Linked DNA regions of Homo sapiens. The protein of the gene in region 1 purifies or fractionates together with the protein of each later gene. This does not show direct contact. Each region holds a gene or a part of one and is shown on either strand. Other genes may lie near its edges.

Region 1 (9,994 bases):
AAGCAGGTGTGAAGTGTGGGTCCTCTGATGTGGGTGAAGGTAAAACAAAGGCCCCTTCTCCTCCTAGAAGCCCTAGTTGTCAGTAATGGATTTCTCAGCTCCCCAGGTGAGGCCCTGGGAAGGAAGAGGGGAGACGCATTTATGGAGCACCTGCTGTGTACCAGGCACAGTAATTGATGCCCTCTACGCATCAACTCACTTGATCATCACAGTGAGGTGGATTATTAGCCCATTTTACAGACGTGTAAACAGAGGCTGAGGAGCCATTCAGGGCTCACACAGGATTTCGAATCTTGACTCCTAGGCTCACTTCTTTAGTTGGGAGTGGGCTGGGCTGGGCCATGTGTGCTTTTTGTTCCCAAGGCACTCAGTCTCAGACACTCAGAGACAGACTCTCACCTCCAGTGTGTGGCCCTTGTGATAGAGGCAGGTGGTGGAGTGTGTTCTAGGGAAGGGCACTAGTGGGCAGTGGGAGGCCAGCAGGGAAGGGGGACAAAGTCCAGAAACGATACAGCACTTGAGCAGGCCTTGGGAAGATAGGTCGGGTTTTGCCCAGTGGGGCCCAGAGGAGGCATTCCAGGTGGAGGGGACAGCGTGGATAAAGGCTTGGGAGTGGGCAGGGGCAAGCAGGCAAGCCATGCTCAGAAGTGAGGAGTAGCTTCATGGGGGTGGGGAGCCCAGGTTCCCACTCCAACCAGCCTGGCATTGGGTTACTCATCGGAGCCAGTCCCAGTGTTATGTTCTGATTCTTTGCCAGAGCCTAGCTAGACCCTGCCAGGCGGGGTGGGAGAAATGAGAGCTGTGAAACCTGAGAGCCCCACATCTCCTACCCTCTGGCTCTCCAGCCAGCCATTGCCAGCCCGGGCTGAGTGGGGGTGAGCCTGAGTTACAGCACCCTCTCCCCTAAGTGACACCTAGGGTTTCTTGGGACCTCCCAGCCTGGTAGTCTAACCTTTCCTGGGCAGGGTGCACCCTCTTGGTTCCCGGTGCCGGTGATTCCCAACATTTAAGCTTCTGTCCAGAACACTCCTCTGCATTGTACGGCCATCCCCCAGACCCCTCAAACTCCAAAACAGGGGTCACAGCCTCTCCAACACCCACTGCTGCTCCTCCAGCCATTTCAACTCTCTGCTCTCCCTCAGCCCATGTTTTCAGTTAAGAACAAGGCCTGTGACTCAGCCTCTTTTGTGGGTCACCTGGAGGTCCCCTCCTCCATCACGACAGCCAGGGCCCTGGGCTAGGCCTGCTCAGTCTCCTGCAAACTGGAGGTCTGACTGCTCCCTCCTGCGCCCCTCCTGCCCATCCCCCTCCAGCCACCCGCCCTCTTAGTTCTCTCACTCTTCCTTCATCTCTTTCTTTCTCTTCCTTTTTTTTTTTTTTGAGACGGAGTCTCGCTCGCCCTGTCACCCAGGCTGGAGTGCAGTGGTGTGATCTCGGCTCACTGCAACCTCCGCATCCCAGCTCCGCCTCCCAGGTTCAAGCAATTTTCCCTGCCTCAGCCTCCCAAGTAGCTGGGATTACAGGCACCCACCACCATGCCCATCTAATTTTTGTATTTTTAGTAAAAACAGGGTTTTGCCATGTTGGCCAGGCTGGTCTCAAACTCCTGACCTCAGGTGATCCACCTGCCTTGGCCTCCCAGAGTGTTGGGATTACAGGTGTGAGCCACCGCGCCGGGCCTCCAGCCTCATTTCTTACTCCCTTTCCCTTTGCACCCAAAGTTTTAGGCACACTGAAGGGCTTCTAGCCAAGCCCTCCCTCACCTCTGGCCCTTGTTCTCCTGCTGCTCTCCCTGCTCCTTTGCTAACCTAGTCTGGCCCATCTTTCTGTCCAGGCCAGGCCTCACCTCTTTGGGACGGGCTCCCTGACTCTCTCTCCACCAATCCATTCAGCTGGGAGTACTCAGGGAGCCTGACACATATACATCCCCAGTCCCTTGTGTGGCCACAGAATGGTTTATACTGGGCACCTCACTGTTTACACTCCAGCTTCCTTCTTGTATGGCCTCTGTCCAGGCACAAAAGAGATGTTTGGAGGATGTTGTCAAATGAATGAACAAATATTTGTTAAGGCGTGGCTCCAGGAGAGCAAAGAACTCTAGACAAAGATTCTGAAGCCCTAGATTCAAGTCAGCTGGGTAGTTGATGCTGTGGGCCTTAGCAAGCCACTGTTCCCTTCTGGGCCTAAGTGTCTCCACCTCTAAAATGGGAACTACTAACCCAGCTGTGCTCATGTCACAGGGTTCTTGTGGGGATCAACTAAGATCACTGGAGACTGACCTTGAGCCGTGTGATGGTCCCCTGGGCAGTGCTGAGGCCTGAGCTGGCAGAGCTGGATGGAGAGCCATTTCCATTAGAGCTGGGAGGGCCCATGGCTCGGCTCCTGACAGCTGGCACAGGCAGACCAGGCATGTAGGAGATGGGAGGCAGGTGGGTTACCTGGAACAAGTCACCCTTGAGTTGAGCTTTGGAGAAAGGGTTTGGACAACCTGGAGAAAGAGGAGAGGGCACTCCAGTTGGGGAATAGGGTGAATATAGGCTCGGAGGCAGAACTCAAGCCTTAACTGGGAAAACGTCTGGGCTTCTACTGTAAAAGCCCAGCCTGTCCTGTTTTCTGCTGCCAATGTTCTGAGAGCCCATCACTCCTGGGTTAGGCCCCCTCTCTCCTTCCCTCCCTTCCACTCCTCATGACCCAGACCTGACCTTTGCCGGAAGACCTGTCCCTGTGTCCCTGTGTACTGTCAGGAACCAAGCAGTGATGGGGCACTTGCTCTCCAAAAGTGTAAGAAAGGGTTCCTTCAGACATAGGGCTGTAGCTCCCAGGGCAGCTGAGGGTGTAGTGGTGGGCAGGGTGTTTGGTGACTCCAGAGAAGGGAAAGACAGCAGAGCTACCGACTCTGGGGAGATGCCTTTGGGACCTGGGTGGTGGATGGAGCTGTTGTACTCTTTCCTATCAGCTGGGGCCTATAGACTTCCTGTACCTTATCTCATTTGCTCTTCACACTGTCCCCTTCAGAGAGGCCTATTTCCACTTTACAGATGCAGAAACTGAGGCTCAGAAAGGAGAATGACTTGCCTAAGGGTCTGAAGCTAGACTAGAATTTGACCCTGACTACCAAACCTTTTCCCCTGCCACACTTCTAGGCCACCCTGAGCCCTGAGAAGCTTTTAAGAACACCTGCCATATTCACTACCTGTGCACTGCCTCCTTGGGGTGAGTCCCAGGGAAACAAGTGAACAGAAGAAAAAGTGAAACATCAGTTGATGAGCAGGTTCATGGCAGTTTTGTCAGTGATGTTAAAACCAAGAAATAGGTGTTACTAAATGTTCAGAAAGAGAAGAAAGATTAAGACTAGGCAGGGACTCTGCAGCCACTGAAATAACGTAACTGCTGTGGAAGGCATAGATGGAAAAGTCTGGTCACTCATCCCACAAGCCTGTATTAAGCACCTGCTGTGTATAAGTATAGGAATACACAGCAGACGCAGGACATGGAGTGGCTGGTGTACAGTGGTCATGGCTCTGTTTGTAGTCATAGGCAGTGGCCAAGAAGCACAGAGGATCTTTTCTTGCCTCTGCTTCCTTGCCAGTGAGGGCCCCAAGGTCTACTCCCATTAAAAAGAAAAAAAGAAGGCTATGCGTGGTAGCTCATGCCTATAATCCCGGCACTTTGGGAAGCCTAGTTGGGTGAACACCTGAGGTCAGGAGTTCGAGACCAGCCTGACCAATATGGTGAAACCCCATCTCTATACTAAGAATACAAAAATTAGCCAGGCATGGTGGCGCATGCCTGTAATCCCAGCTACTTGGAAGGCTGAGACAGGAGAATCACTTGAACCCAGGAGGCGGAGGTTGCAGTGAGCTGAGATCATGCCACTGTACTCCAGCCTGGGTGACAGAGCAAGACTCCGTCTCAAAAAAAAAAGGGGGGGGGGCAGGGGAAAGGGAAGCACAGAGGCCTAAGTTCCATTCCCAGCCCTCCTGGGCTGTGTGTGCAACTTAAGGCAAGCTACTCAACTTTGCTGAGTCTCAAGTTGCCCATCTTTAAGATAGAGAGATAATGCCCACCCCCATTGGCTAATGATAAGGATTAAGAAAAATTGGATATTTAGAGCCCCAGGTGCCAGGTGCATGGTACATCATGTACTGGTTGTGATGTGGTTTTCAGCCTGGGTTGCACGTTGGGACCACCTGAGTGGCTTTGAAAACAGCCAATGCCTGGATCCATCCTTGGGGATTTCTCTACAATTTGTCTGGGGTCTGCTGAGGGATGGGGGACACAGGTATCCTAAACAGTCCCCCAAGTGATTCTGCTCTAGAGCAGACTTCCTCACACTTCAACATGCATCAGCATCATTGGGAGGGTTTTTTAAAGTGCAGATCCCTGGACCCCACCCACAGAGTTTCTGATTCAAGAGATCTGGAGTGGAGCCTAAGAATCTACATTTTCACCAAGTTCCCAGTGAGGCTGATGCTGCTGGTCCAGGAGCCACAGCGTGAGGACCATTGATGTAGGGAGGTGTAAGTAATTGTGACAGGGAGCAGGGTTATAGGGGAAGTGTTTGCATCTTTTGTCAGGAGAACCCTTGAATCAGGACCTGGATAGTTCCTTTCCAACACATGGGATAGGAGAGAGAAGAGGGGAGGGGAAGGAGGACAGATCGGGGGGAAGAGAGCAGGAGTTGGGACCTCTCCCCATTTCCAGTTCTGCTGACTGCCTCCTCCAGGCTAGGTGGGAGAGCCCTGGCCCTTCTCACTGGGCACCTTAGACCATGGAAACGGCCCTGGGGTGGAGGGAAGTCCACATTCTGCACCATGTTTCTGGAGTTTGCTGATAAATCAGCCCACTGTGTCTCCAGCCTGTCTGTGCCTGAGGCCTGCTAAGTAGGGAGTTTTCTGTCTGTGTTGGGTGAGGAGCAGGGGGCACTGCTTCCCCAGCCTGAGCCTTTCTGGGCTCCTACAGAGGAACCACTGTCAAAAGCAAAGCTGAGACCCCCAGGAGAACCCCTCGTGTTTCCAAGAAGCCAGCATGGATCCTTAGTCTAACTCCCAGGGAGCAGCAGCTTAGAAGGACAGACTTGTTGGGCCAAATGGGGCCTGGAAATTCCCACCAGCTCTCCCCTTTTCAGCTCTCCCGAAGGCACCCAGTGGAAACCCCAGATGTTGTGTGCATCCTGCAGGCGTCCTCTCTTTGGGCCTCTTAACACGCAATCCAATTGCCCTGATGTCCAGCGGCTTCAGGTCTCATTCAGGGCAAGCCTGGCTGTTTGCAGGCCTGAGTTTCAGCCATTCACTCCTCATCAGAGCTGGCTCTGGTCAGCTTATGGCCCCAGGAGGCCCTATGGGCTCTGGGCTCTGCAGACCTAGGAGGCCTTCTTGCTTCATGCTGTAACAGTGGACAAAGGCGGAGGAGCTAAACAGCAGGGGAGGTGCACAAAAGCCCTTTACGGTTGGGCATTTTACAAAGTGCTGGGTCCTCTTCACCTCTATACTTTTCACCAAGGGCTGGCATAGTGGCCATTGTCACTGACTCCCAGTGGTTGATACTCACCTTGGGCAGGCCAAGCTGTGGATAGAGGCAGTTCATCTAAACAAAGACAGGACCCCTCCGAGATGAGTTTGTCATCTGGATGGCCCTAGGAGCCAAGTGCTGCCCCCCACCTGGAGTAATGCTTACCTGGGGATCCCCAGCAGCCCCTACCCTCACCTCTACCCCAGATGCTACCTGGTTCCCCCTGCCCACGTTTCTCCCTCCCATATCTCCCTGGCCTCTTCACTCCCTTCTCTGGGTGACCTCATCCCTTTCTGGCTTCAGACACCAAGTATATACTGATGCTTCCCCAGTCTATGTGCCTGGAACTCTCAGTCTCTGAGCCTGGGACTGCACAACCCCCCTAGCACCATGCTCAGGGCTACAGTGAGGATGGCACCCCATGCAGCTACACGAGGTGGCCCTGTGGGTCCTCATTCGGAGTTGTCTCCCAGCCACCTCCCTGTCATCCCCCAGTGTATCCCACTGGCACTCAAATCAGCCACGCATACCTGTGAGCATTCATCTTCCTCCTACATGTGTACCCTAAAGCATGCTACAGCCCCCCACCATGCACTAAGCTCCTTAGGCCTAGCCCAGGATGGATAAAGGTTTTGGGAGGCATTTTCTATACCTACTAGAGCCAGCTGTCCCCAGTGGGTGAGGGCAAGGTGGAAAGGGATAGTAGTGACTCTTCTGTCCCCAGTCCGGAGCTATCCCCTGTGAGCCCTGTGGCATCGAGGCCTCTGAGGAAGAAAGTCTGGGAGCCGCACACTGACTGTGTGTTGTGTGTTTTCCCTCAACAGGACTGCACCTTCTTCAATAAGAAGGACATCCTCAAGTAAGTGTGGCTTCTCGTTCACCCTGTTGGGACTGGGACTGGGGCCGGGGTGAGGCTGGGGCACCCCACATGGGCTGGCTGTGCTCCTGGGGCTGAGGCAGAGCATCAGCATGTATCAGGAGCCACATTCAGGTCCCCACTCGGCCACTGGGCTAGGATGGAGTTAGAGCTTCCCACTCCTCCCAGGGCCCAGATCCTCCTGCTGGGGAATGAACATCTACTTACTATGAGCTTTCAGGTGGGTAGTTTCCGGCACATTCTTATTTAATCCTCATTGTGACCTTGTAACAAGAGAATCCATTTATCCCCATTTGACAGATGGAGCTTAGCAACTTGGCTAAAGTCACAGAGCCAGGGACTCAAGACCCAGCCTCTGACTCCAGGTCCCTTGCTATTTCACTGCATCCTGGGTCCTGGTATAGCAGGGAGTCCCTGTCTGTTAGACCAGGGGTCCCTAAGGGCCCTTTGGCTCTAGCTTTGATGTTCTTCCACTCCTAGGACGTCTAAAAGTTGAGGGCATGGCCACCACCCCTGAGCTATTCATCAGGGCTCTGCTTCTTCCCAGGACAGCCCTTCTCCTTGGTGTTGATGGGGGTGGGGGTGGACCTGGATGGGAAAGATAAAGGGGATCGGCAGCCTCAGAACCCCAGGACCAGTGGGTGAGCAGGAATCACTGAATACCAAGAAAACTGCCCCACGGGCCTCACTAGGCCCCTCTGCCTGGGTGGCACTAAAAGCCAGCAAAGTCCCAGGATCACTTGCCCTGGAGATCGATGGTCAGGCTGGGACCAGAGCCCATTGCAGCTTCCCAAGAGAGCTGTGCTGCAGCTTGTCACTGCCCTAACCATTCTGCTCATTCAGGCAGTGCCTCTCGGCTTTCCTCTCTACCCAGGCTGCTATTCCAACCTGTCACCTGCATGGGCAGGGGATACCCCACTTCCACCACCTTAGAGAGTCTGAGCAAGGGGCAAAGCCTCCAGGCCTGGCATCAGTAGACCTGGCATCTGTGGCCTTGGGCAACCATTTGACCTTCCCTGAGCCTCAGTTTTCTTCTGTATAATAGGGATAGTGAAACCTACCCTCATAGCATTGCCGAGAGGCAGCAACACTGGGGTATAGTGTTTGATAAGTGGGATTTGCCCTGTAGCTTGAGAGATGTCAGGGGTGAGGTCCCCATTTCGACAGGATGGCTCTCGGTATTGGAATAACAAAGCTGTCACCCCTGGCATTCTTGTGGCACCTTTTACCTTTCAGAGTTCTTGGCATGGAGCCTCATTTGAGCCTCACAGGGAGCTTCGGGTTCCCTACCTTTGTAGATGCCAAGCCCAAGCTGCCTGTCTTCTGAGGCCCACGGCCATTTTCATTCTGGCAACAAAAGCCCCTTGCCTCGGCCTTTGCACTGGCTATCTCCACTCCCTGGAGTGTCCTTCGCCTCTCCTCTGCCCACAGCATTGCTATGCATCCTTCCAGACCCAACTCCAGAATCATCTCCTTTATAAGCACCCCCAACACCCTGCCACCCTAGTGCTATCCCAGCTGCTCTAACAGCCTGTTAGGGGCTCCTTGGGTTCCTGGACCCAGGGGCCCAGCTCCCCACCAGACTTGTGATCAGGCAGGACTAACAGGGAGCATGGCACCTGTTAGCCACCAGTGACCATATGAAGAGTGTGTGGGTGAAAGACAGGTAGGATTGGCTGAGGGAGAACATTCCAGGCTGGGGAGCAGCAGAGGTGAGACACAGGCCAGCTTCTCCTGCTCCCACTCCCACCCCCATCCTCCCGTGGTCTCATTGACAGCAGCAAGATTGCCTGTGTGGGGAAGAGGAGAGAGGAGCTTGAAGGCCAGTCCGGGAATCCGATCCAATATGATGGGCCTTTGGTGGTTGTTTTAGTCCATTCTCATGCTGCTATAAAGAACTGCCTGAGACTGGGTAATTTATAAAGGAAAGAGGTTTAATTGATTCATGGCTCCACATGGCTGGGGAGGCCTCAGGAAACTTACAATCATGGCAGAAGGGGAGGCAAACACATCCTTCCTCACATGGCGGCAGGAAAGAGAAGTGCTGGGCAAAGGGGGAGAAGCCCCTTATAAAACCATCAGATCTCGTGAGAACTCACTATCATGAGAACAGCCTCGGGGTAACTGCCCCCATGATTCAATTACCTCCCACCAGGTCCCTCCCATGACACGTAGGGATTATGGGAACTACAATTCAAGATGAGATTTGGGTAGGGACACAGCCAAACCATATCAGGGGTATCCCTGGCCCCTTGGAAAATGAGGGGCTCCAGGCAGGTGAGAGGGCTTGAGGAGAGGCGTCCTGGCTCCCCACAGCCCTGGCCTGCACCCCTCTGCACGCATCAGGACCCTAGGCTCTGTAATTCAACACCAGAGCAAAACCCAAGCCTGAGGCCCCGTCTGCAGCATGGGGATGACATTGCTTGCAGGAGCTGTTTTCTCACAGGCCCCTGTGTCTGGGAGGGCTGGGTGATGGTGTTATTAAACATGAAAAGAGCTACCTGGAGTTTGCTGCCCACCTGTCCACCCTCAGGGAAGGGTAGTTAAGACAAGACAGATTCGGGATTGCCTGTCCCTAGAGGGAACAGGCATGGCCATGATGGCTCAATTCCAGTTTCACCCCCCTTCGCTTTTCTCCAGCCTTCTCTGTGGAGAGGCCAGCATGACTGACTGCCCCTCCAGGAGAGCCCTCTCCACTGTTCACATCTCAGGTCCGGGTGACAAAACTGAGGCCTGGAGCCCAGAGAGGGCAAAGTCAGCTGCAGAGCCAGGCTATCCAGCCCCAGGCCATGCTCATCTTCCCTGCTCCCAAGGGCCTTTCAGGGATGCTACTCCCCACCCCCACCAGGATGGTTTTCTTGGTAAGCTGCTCCCTGCGTACTGACCAGATGGCTAGGAGGAAACTTGAGCAGGAGGTTTTTCTTTGCAGGTTGGGGCCCAGCTCTGTGGCAACTTTGGGGCAGTGATACCGAGTCACAGATAGCCCGCCTCCAATTCTCCTTCCCTCTGCCCTGCCCCCACCCAGGTAGATCCGATTGCTCCCCAGGACACAGCTCCTGCATTCCCACATTGAGGCCGAGTGGGCAGCCCACCCTATTCAGTCACCTTGCTTTTTATAGGTAAGAGCTTAGCACTTCAACTTCCCTTGTGCCCTAATTAGGCTGTGCTCTTTAATCAGCGGGACAGTAGTCCTTGTCCCCTTGGTACACAGAGAGGCCCACCCAGCCAGCACTCCAAGGTATTTGCCTACTTGTTATTTTATTGTTTATTTTCTCAACCTTTTAAAAACTTTGTGTAACCTATTTTAATTACTTACTACACATATACATAATGATTGTAGAAAAATTAGAAAATGAAGCCAGTCAAGAGAAGACAAAAAAAATTACCTGTAAGCCTATGACCCAGAAATAAGGCTGTTAATCTTTTGGTATATATTATGCCAGTGTTTTTCTTTTGTATGTGTTTATCAAAAAGTCAGATTGTGGTCGGGTACGTTGGCTCACACCTGTAATCCTAGCACTTTGAGAGGCCGAGGCCGGTGGATTACATGAACTCAGGGGTTTGTGACCAGTCTGGCCAACATGGTGAGACCCCTGTCTCTAAAAA
Region 2 (8,206 bases), on another chromosome or scaffold:
AATTACTTGAACACTAAACTCTCCTTAGTATTAAAAAAAATCCTTAGGCCAGGTGCAGTGGTTCATGCTTGTAATCCTAGCACTTTCGGAGACCGAGGCCAGAGGATCACTTGAGCCCAGGAGTTCGAGACCAGCCTGAGCAACACAGTGGGACCCCCGTCTCTATAAAAAATAAAAAATTAGCCGTGTGTGGCGGTGGCACCTGTAGTCCCAGCTACTCGGAACGCTGGGGTGGAAGAATCGCTTGAGCCCGTGAGGTCAAGGCTGTAGTGAGCCCAGATTGCACCACTGCACTCCAGCCTGGGCAACAGAGCCAGATCCTGTTTCAGAAAAAAAAAAAGAAAAAGAAAAATCCTTAAAACCCTCCAAAGTAGTAAAAATAGAAAACACACCTAAAATTTTAAGAAAAAAGTGATTACAAGGAATAACATCTATTCCATAGAACAGGAAATACCACAACAGTAACACCTATTGTTTCTACTTGAATTACAGATAAACGAATCAGCCGGGGAAGAGCCTCCACTGCACCCTTCTCTGCCCAGTAACGGCGTGTTCTGAAAGGCTGTCCAGTCAAGAAGGGGAGGATGGGCTGGGACAAGTGAATGGCCAAGTTTCCATGGTGGGGACACCACCTGGACATGCCCCACGTGGCTGTGAGCCCCTGCTGACATCCCCCCAGCCACCCTCCGCCCAACAGGTGACCCTTCAGGGACACAAAGGCGATCCTGGGCTTCCCTTTCAAGGGCACTTGCGAGGACTTAGGAATCGCTAACAGGACAATGTCATCTACAGAGCTCCCTTCCTCACTCACCAGGGAGCCTGGCGTCCTCACATCTACAGAGCTCTCTTCCTCACTCACCAGGGAGCCTGGCATCCTCACATCTACCACACCTCCAGCCTCACTCTACCTGCCCATCTCACTGTTTCTTAAAGACTTTAAATATCTGCTTCTAGGTCGGGCGCGGTGGCTCACGCCTGTAATCCCAGCACTTTGGGAGGCCAAGCGGGCAGATCAGCTGAGGTCGGGAGTTCGAGACCAGCCTGGCCAACATGGAGAAACCCTGTCTCTACTAAAAATACAAAAAAAAAATTACCCAGGCGTGGTGGCAAGCGCCTGTTATCCCAGCTACTCAGGAGGCTGAGGCAGGAGAATCTCTTGAACCCAGGAGGCAGAGGTTGTGGTGAGCCGAGATCATGCCATTGCACTCCAGCCTGGGCAACAAGAGTGAAACTCTGTCTCAGATTCTGAGACGTCTCGCCACCACGCCTGGGTAATTTTTTTTTGTATTTTTAGTAGAGACGGGGTTTCTCCATGTTGGCCAGGCTGGTCTCAAACTCCTGACCTCAGGTGATCCACCCGCCTCAGCCTCCCAAAATGCTGGGATTCCAGGCTGCCCAGGCTGGAGTGTAGTGGAGCGATCTCGGCTCACTGCAAGCTCCGCCTCCCGGGTTCTTGCTATTCTCCTGCCTCAGCCTCCCGAGTAGCTGGGACTACAGGTGCCCGCCACCACGCCCGGCTAATTTTTTTATATTTTTTTAGTAGAGACGGGGTTTCACCGTGTTAGCCAGGATGGTCTCAATCTCCTGACCTCGTGATCCACCTCGGCCTCCCAAAGTGCTGGAATTACAGGCGTGAGCCACCGTGCCCGGCCATGGCCGACATTCTTTAACTCCTATTTGTTATTCAGACAAGGCTCTCTTCCTGATCGGTTCATAAGAGTTCCCTGAAGTATAATAATGGATGTGGCTGACAATAGCCAAACAGTGCTTCACAGCTTGCCAAGAGTGTACACATATTCTTGTTTAAATTTTGACTAGTGAATCTATTACAAGATGTTTCTTGAGGGCAGGCACAGTGGCTCACACCTGTAATCCCAGCACTTTGGGAGGCTGAGGTGGGCAGATCACTTACAGTCAGGAGTTCGAAAGCAGCCTGGCCAACGTGGTGAAACCTCATCTCTACTAAAAATACAAAAATTGGCCAGGCATGGTGGTGGGCACCTGTAATCCCAGCTACTCAGGAGGCTGAGACAGGAGAATCGCTTGAACCCAGGAGGCAAAGGTTGCAGTAAGCCGAGATCATGCCATTGCACTCCAGTGTGGGTGACAGAGCAAGACTCCGTCTCAAAAAAAAAAAAAAAAAAAAAAAAAGTTTCTTGGCATCAATGTGAAAACTGTTAAAAACTCTAAACCAGCAACCTCACTGAACATGATGTAGTGCTGCACAGTGCCTGACATAAAGACCTGAGATAGGCCAGGCGCGGTGCCTCACACCTGTAATCCCAGCACTTTGGGAGGCCAAGGCAGGCGGATCACAAGGTCAGGAGTTCAAGATCAGACTGGACAACATGGTGAAACCCTGTCTCTACTAAAAATACAAAAACTAGCCAGGTGTGGTGGCGGATGCCTGTAATCCCAGCTACTGGGGAGCCTGAGGCAGGAGAATTGCTTGAACCCGGGAGGCAGAGGTTGCAGTGAGCCAAACTCATGCCATTGCACTCCAGCCCAGGCCAACAACAGCGAGACTCCATCTCAAAAAGGGAAAAAAAAAAAAAAAAAAAAAAAAGACCTGAGATGTGCCATGTCCTGAGGAACAGGGATCAGAGAAGAACTGGTGTCTCCCTCTCCAGTCACATAACACACTTTGTAAGTGTGCTTTCTAACCATTATGTAAACAGATTTTACAGTCACTAATCCTGTCATTTGTAGGAATTTACTGTCATTTTTAAGTCTCAACAACAAAAAGTAAATAAAATTTAAAACCTCCAATGGCTCCCCAGTGCCTATAAAATAAAGTCCTAATGCTTTAAAACAGGACACGGGATACATCCCACCAGGACCCACCTTCCATGTTACTGCATTTCAGGAGCAGCTCACACCCCACCTCTCATGAAGCCCTCCGACCTTGTGACAGCATCACACGTCACAACCATGACTGCCCTGTCCCACCAGAGACCCTGTGTCATCCGTCCACAGCACCACACGCAGCAGGTGCACAATAAACGTGCTGCTGAAAGACGTGGTCTGTGAAGAAGGCGCCAAACACAGACTGGCTCTTCCTGCCTCCCTGATGGTTACCTCTTCAAAGTTGGTGACTTGCTCCACAGGCACTTTCTCCTCTTCCTCAAGGGCGTGGCGCAAGGTCTTCTCAACCCGCTGCAGCAGGAAGTCAAAGGCGGCAGGATTCTAGCACAACAGTGAGACGACGGGGTCAGAGGGGAAACACACCCACACTAGCCTGCCTCAGGTTTGACGCTGTGGCTGCACGTGGCAGGTTGTGCCCGAGAAAGCTCCGGAAGGACTCATGTGCACAATCTGCAGTGCACTGCCCTAAAGAAGCCCCCGGGGGGTGCTGGGCCAGAGAAGCCACACCCGGTGAGGGGCCGTGGGACAGGATGGGGAGAAGGGGCTTTATTTCAGCCCCTGCAGCTTCTGGGTCCTACCACAGCACAAGAGTGGGAAGAATCTGAATCCCAGGGAAGAAGCACACCATCCTAAACCGGCAAGGGATATCGCTGCGGAAAACCCCAGACTCGAGGGCCTCCACGTGGCCCCCGACGTAGGTCTCAGAGTCCAGCACGTGTCCGTCGTCCGTCAGCTTATTGAACTCCTGCTCTTGCTTGTTGGGGAAGATGATGTTGGCGTGGAAGGCCTGCACCATCAGCAAGGCCTCACACAGAGTGCCAGAGCCCTTCCGCAGCACCTGCAAGAGAAACCAAGGCTTCCAGCCAAAAGCAACACCAAAGGCCCTGACTTGCAGGCAAAGTCCAGGAACCTAAGCTGAACTTCAGTGTGAAAGGAGAGAAAACCTCGTGGTAAATGGCTGCAAATTCTGCCTCCTGTGGTTTCTTCCTCACACCAGGGCCAGAGAATTCCCAAAGGACATCCCTGACGTCACACACCAGAATTCTACTGCCGCCTCTGGTGCCAGCACTCCTGGGACATCCACCTCCATTCAGCTCCAGTGCATTTGGAATGGGGCAAGGGCTGAGGAGGCCAGGGTGCCGACAGGACAGATAATGCTCACCTCGTCGGGCTCCATGGGAATAATGGTGCACAGAGCAAAGATGAATGGGTGGACGTACTTCATGTACAGGTAGTAAGTGGCGACAGCATCTGACACAGAATACGTGGCCAGAGTCTGAGGAGAGAACGCCAGAGAGCAGGGCCATCAAAAATCAAGAGCCCAGGGTCAAGTGTGAAGCACAGAAAGCAAAGCCTGGCCTGACCAGCCTGCCGCACACACAGTAAGGAGACCGGCACAGGACAAAACACGTGTGTCCCGGAGACACAGCCTGCTGGGTGGAGCGGGCTGGCATACATGCGTGCACACGGCAGCAGGGGGAGCCGGGATGTGGCTCACATGCCTGGGGCTGCTCCGTGGCCATCTGGATGCGTGCACACGGCAGCAGGGGCAGCCGGGATGTGGCTTACGTGCCTGGGGCTGCTCCGTGGCCATCCGGCACATGTCCTCCGGGTCTAGCTCCACGGGATCATAGCCTAGCTTGGCCTTGGCGGCCGCCTTGAGATTATGACTGCCCACAGGAAGGTAACTGTCCCTCTTCACCCACCTGGAAGGAGAATGAGAACAGAAGCCAGGATGATTCTAACATGCAGCCCGGGAACCCCTGAGAACTGGCAAAACTGGGCACCACACAGACAGATGCAAGTTCCTAACAGGCACCCAGGAGCCTCACACCAAGGCCCCACATGGTGTAGACACCTTGTGAAAACCCTTCATCAGGATCTAGTTAATCTCACAGACCTATCCACAACACAAGGAAGCACCAGGACTGGTCCTTCCGGCCCTCGCCTTCCTCCCATCCTCAGCAGAGTTTGTGGCCTCTCCGACGGGCGCCCCACCTCCTTGGGCCTCTCCCCAGACCTCAGGTCTGCACCCCTGGGGCCTAGTTCTATCAACCACACTGATCTTCTCTCCTCACACTGTCCCTTCAGCACGGAAACACTCAAGCCCACCCTCCTTTAATAGAAGGCAAGATGTGATCAGATGCCAAGAAGAATAAAAATTTAAAAAATAAATAAAAAATAAAAATTAAGAAAAGAAGGCCCCCCACACTCTACCCGGAACCTGTCTCTACCTCCTCCCTACAGACGCATTCCCTGGAGCAGCTGTCCAGGGGTCATGTCCGGTCTCCACCCCCCGCAGCCTCCACCCTGTGGCCTTCTTCTCTCACTTTACCTCTTGCCTTCAGTTCATCCACTACCCCAGCTTTCACCAAGACCCACCCGCAACCCAGTGAGTCCCAATCTACAGTGCGAGCCCAAACCAAGCCTCATGGTGGTCTTCAGGGCCCCCATATGGGTGGGGCTTCCAGGCTAGCATATCGGTAGCAGGGTCACCTCCTGCCTCAAGCCCCTTCTCTACCCATTCCCTGTCTCCACGGATGGCACAAAAACCCCAGGTGCCAACCCCTCCCTAAGAACCAGCATCCCTGGGCCTCCCCCTGCCCCACATGACAGATCCTGAATCCTCACAACCCTCACTCCCTGCCTTGGATCAGGACTGTCACACCGTCACACGCTAAACCGGCCCCAGCCTCCTGGCCTCCCTCTCCAAGCCAAGTGCTGAGCATCAGAGCTAAACAGAAACGCATTCAGGCTGCAAGCACCCCAGTGGCACTGTGCAGAATACAGAGGCCGTGGAGGCCCCTCCATTCCCTTCCTTCCCTCCCTCCCTTCCCTTCCTTCCCTCCCTCCCTTCCCTTCCTTCCCTTCCCTCCTTTCCTCCCTCCCTTCCCTTCCTTCCCTTCCAGCCTCCTTCTGTTGGCATTTCCACATCCACCTGTCTTCCCAACCAGTCATGTCAGAGCCCCCGAACGCCGTGACTCTCCGAAGCTCTGAGCTGCCTCCCACCCTAGCTCATATGGAATCTGTGGTTGTCCCGTGAGGCTTGTCCTGTGAGGCAGCCGGGCTGCCACATCCCAACCTTGCCTGGGCAGAGCAGCTCCATGAGGTCCTAGGTCTGGGACCTGTCAGCTGAGTGCGTCTTTCCAGCGGCTTCCCCACCCCAGAGGCTGATGCTCAATGTGCCTGGTCACTGATGAATTGTCAGTCAACAGTCAAAGACAGCACATCCCGGGCCCTGGCAGGGTTGCAGCTGCCATACTCTTGGGTGACCTGAAACGGCCTCTCGGAGGCCACCCTCCTCCCATGAGATGTGGTGACAGCACAGTCTGCAAGAGGCCTTCAGATCTCGCTCACGGACAGCAGTGAGGAGCCATGCTGCTCTGTGGCCCCTACCTGAGGCAGTCCATGTGGATGCACTGGGGCGCCTTGTACTCCCCCTGGCTGTCCTTCTGGAAGCCTATCTCCTGCTGCATGCTCAGACCGTGGACTGCTGCCCGGGCCTCCACAAATGGCCTGGGTTGGAAAGAGGACAGACAAGCAAGTGGGCAGGTCAGGCTCTAATGCCCCTTTCTCCATTCCTCCCTCAGACCCAGGGAGGAACCCAGACACGGGAGGTGCAGAGTGAACCCAGGAGCCACCTCCTAAGTCGACATGGGAAGCGCCCCTGCACCACGCAACGCCCTCCCTCTCAAATGCTGCCCAGTTACTCATAGAGAAGACACAGACTCACCAGTCAAAAAAGTCCCCGTTGTAGGTGACCATGATGGTGGGTTTGGTCTCCTGGACGTGTTCAAACCACCTTTGGATCAGATGAGCCTGAACCCAAGTCACAGCAGTCAGAGGTCTGCTCTTTCTCTTCTTCAAGCTATTCCAAATTCCTCTCCCAAAGTTCAGAAGCAGCAGCCTCATGTTGGCCCTTATTCCTGCCCCGCCCCTCCGCCCGTCTCTGGCAGAAAAGACGGTCATACCCTGAGAACAAAGCTCATGGAGCTGCAATTCTGATCTGACGGAATGCCTGAGGCCTTGGAAAGATCCACATGTCCGTTCTTCCCACAATACCGGGTAGTTTCCCAAGTGATACCTCCTTACCTCATCGGGTTCATTGAAGACACAAAAGGGGCCTTCATATTCTGGCTTGGGGGTGAACTCAAAATCTTCAATATCTTCTGAAACAATCTCCCTGTTGGTGATGAGGTAGCCCTAGCCAAGTTCATTAGCAATCAGCACAAGTCAGAGGCTGCAAAGCCAAGAAATGGCGTTCCCACCCTGCCCACACACTCTGCCTAGAGATTCTCACTACAAAGAAGTCCACAGCAATGTGAAAGTGCTTTAAGCTTCCTGAGAAGAGACGCTCTGTGTGTGGATTCCCACTCGAAAGGGGAGGGTACAGCTGGAGGTCGGAACGGCTTGGTTGCTCCCATTCCTGGACTAACTCATTATTCACTCAACAAATACTAACAGTGGGGCAGATGCTGCTGTAGTATGGGGACCAGACAAGGTCCCCATCCCAGGAGCTTACTTCCCAGAAGCCACCTGCTCACCTGGCCATCGATCATGTAGGAAATCATCATAATCTGGTCTGTCTCAGCATCAGGAAACTTGAGGGGCAGTTTGGTCGTCTCAATGTCAAATGCCAAAACCACAGGGTCCTGTGGGGACAAAATAAGCATAAAGCCAAGCTCTAAACTCCCCATTAGGCCTCCCTGAACACCCACCCCCAGCCTGCTCTACCTCCCTCTGGTTGTTAAAAGAGTCAAAAGGCTCTAGAGCTGGGAGAAGGACCCTAAGACTAACCAACCTACATCAAGAGTATCACGACTCCCTATGGTATGAAAACTGACATACCTAAGAGAGCAGCTGATCACAGGACAAGCCTAAAATCACAGAACTTTAGGAGAAAAACTCTTCAAAAGACATCACCTCATTCTGGTGGTTATGACAACTCTGAAAGGTAACTGTGGCACAGAGATGATATCTTCATTTCGGAAAAGAGAAAACTGAATACAAAGACTTTCCCAACACCACAAAGTCATGTTTGAACCAAGGCCTTCTAGTTACAAATCCATTTTTCACCATGTCCCTTCACTATCAACTACCCAAACGGAAGTCCCAGCTTTCCCTCGAGTGTCCAAATCCTGCCTAGCTCAAACACTGATGTCATACAGTGATATACAACAAAAAAGGAAATGATACTGTCAGAAACTGATGAAAAATTCTAACTCCATATTTCCTTTAATAAAGTATTTGGGGGAAAAGCAGCAAACATATCTTTGAGTCAGATTCACTCTCCAGCACTGAAGAATATTCTCTCCAGAAAACTGGAAATTTTAGGATGAAG

Evidence for each region.
Region 2: the proteins of CIB2 (region 1) and POLE purify together in Homo sapiens (co-immunoprecipitation; 2 studies listed by BioGRID and IntAct, with this or other methods). This does not show direct contact.

What each region holds. Positions count from the first base shown.
Region 1 is NC_000015.10:78,120,081-78,130,074, reverse strand, and holds part of CIB2 (calcium and integrin-binding family member 2), read left to right. Parts: intron 1-6,335; coding exon 6,336-6,370; intron 6,371-9,413; exon of another isoform or gene 9,414-9,507; intron 9,508-9,994. UniProt on the Homo sapiens protein: Calcium- and integrin-binding protein that plays a role in intracellular calcium homeostasis. Acts as an auxiliary subunit of the sensory mechanoelectrical transduction (MET) channel in hair cells.
Region 2 is NC_000012.12:132,669,137-132,677,342, forward strand, and holds part of POLE (DNA polymerase epsilon catalytic subunit A), read right to left. Parts: intron 7,518-8,206; coding exon 7,410-7,517; intron 7,069-7,409; coding exon 6,958-7,068; intron 6,685-6,957; coding exon 6,599-6,684; intron 6,382-6,598; coding exon 6,262-6,381; intron 4,572-6,261; coding exon 4,439-4,571; intron 4,142-4,438; coding exon 4,028-4,141; intron 3,704-4,027; coding exon 3,491-3,703; intron 3,187-3,490; coding exon 3,079-3,186; intron 1-3,078. UniProt on the Homo sapiens protein: Catalytic component of the DNA polymerase epsilon complex. Participates in chromosomal DNA replication.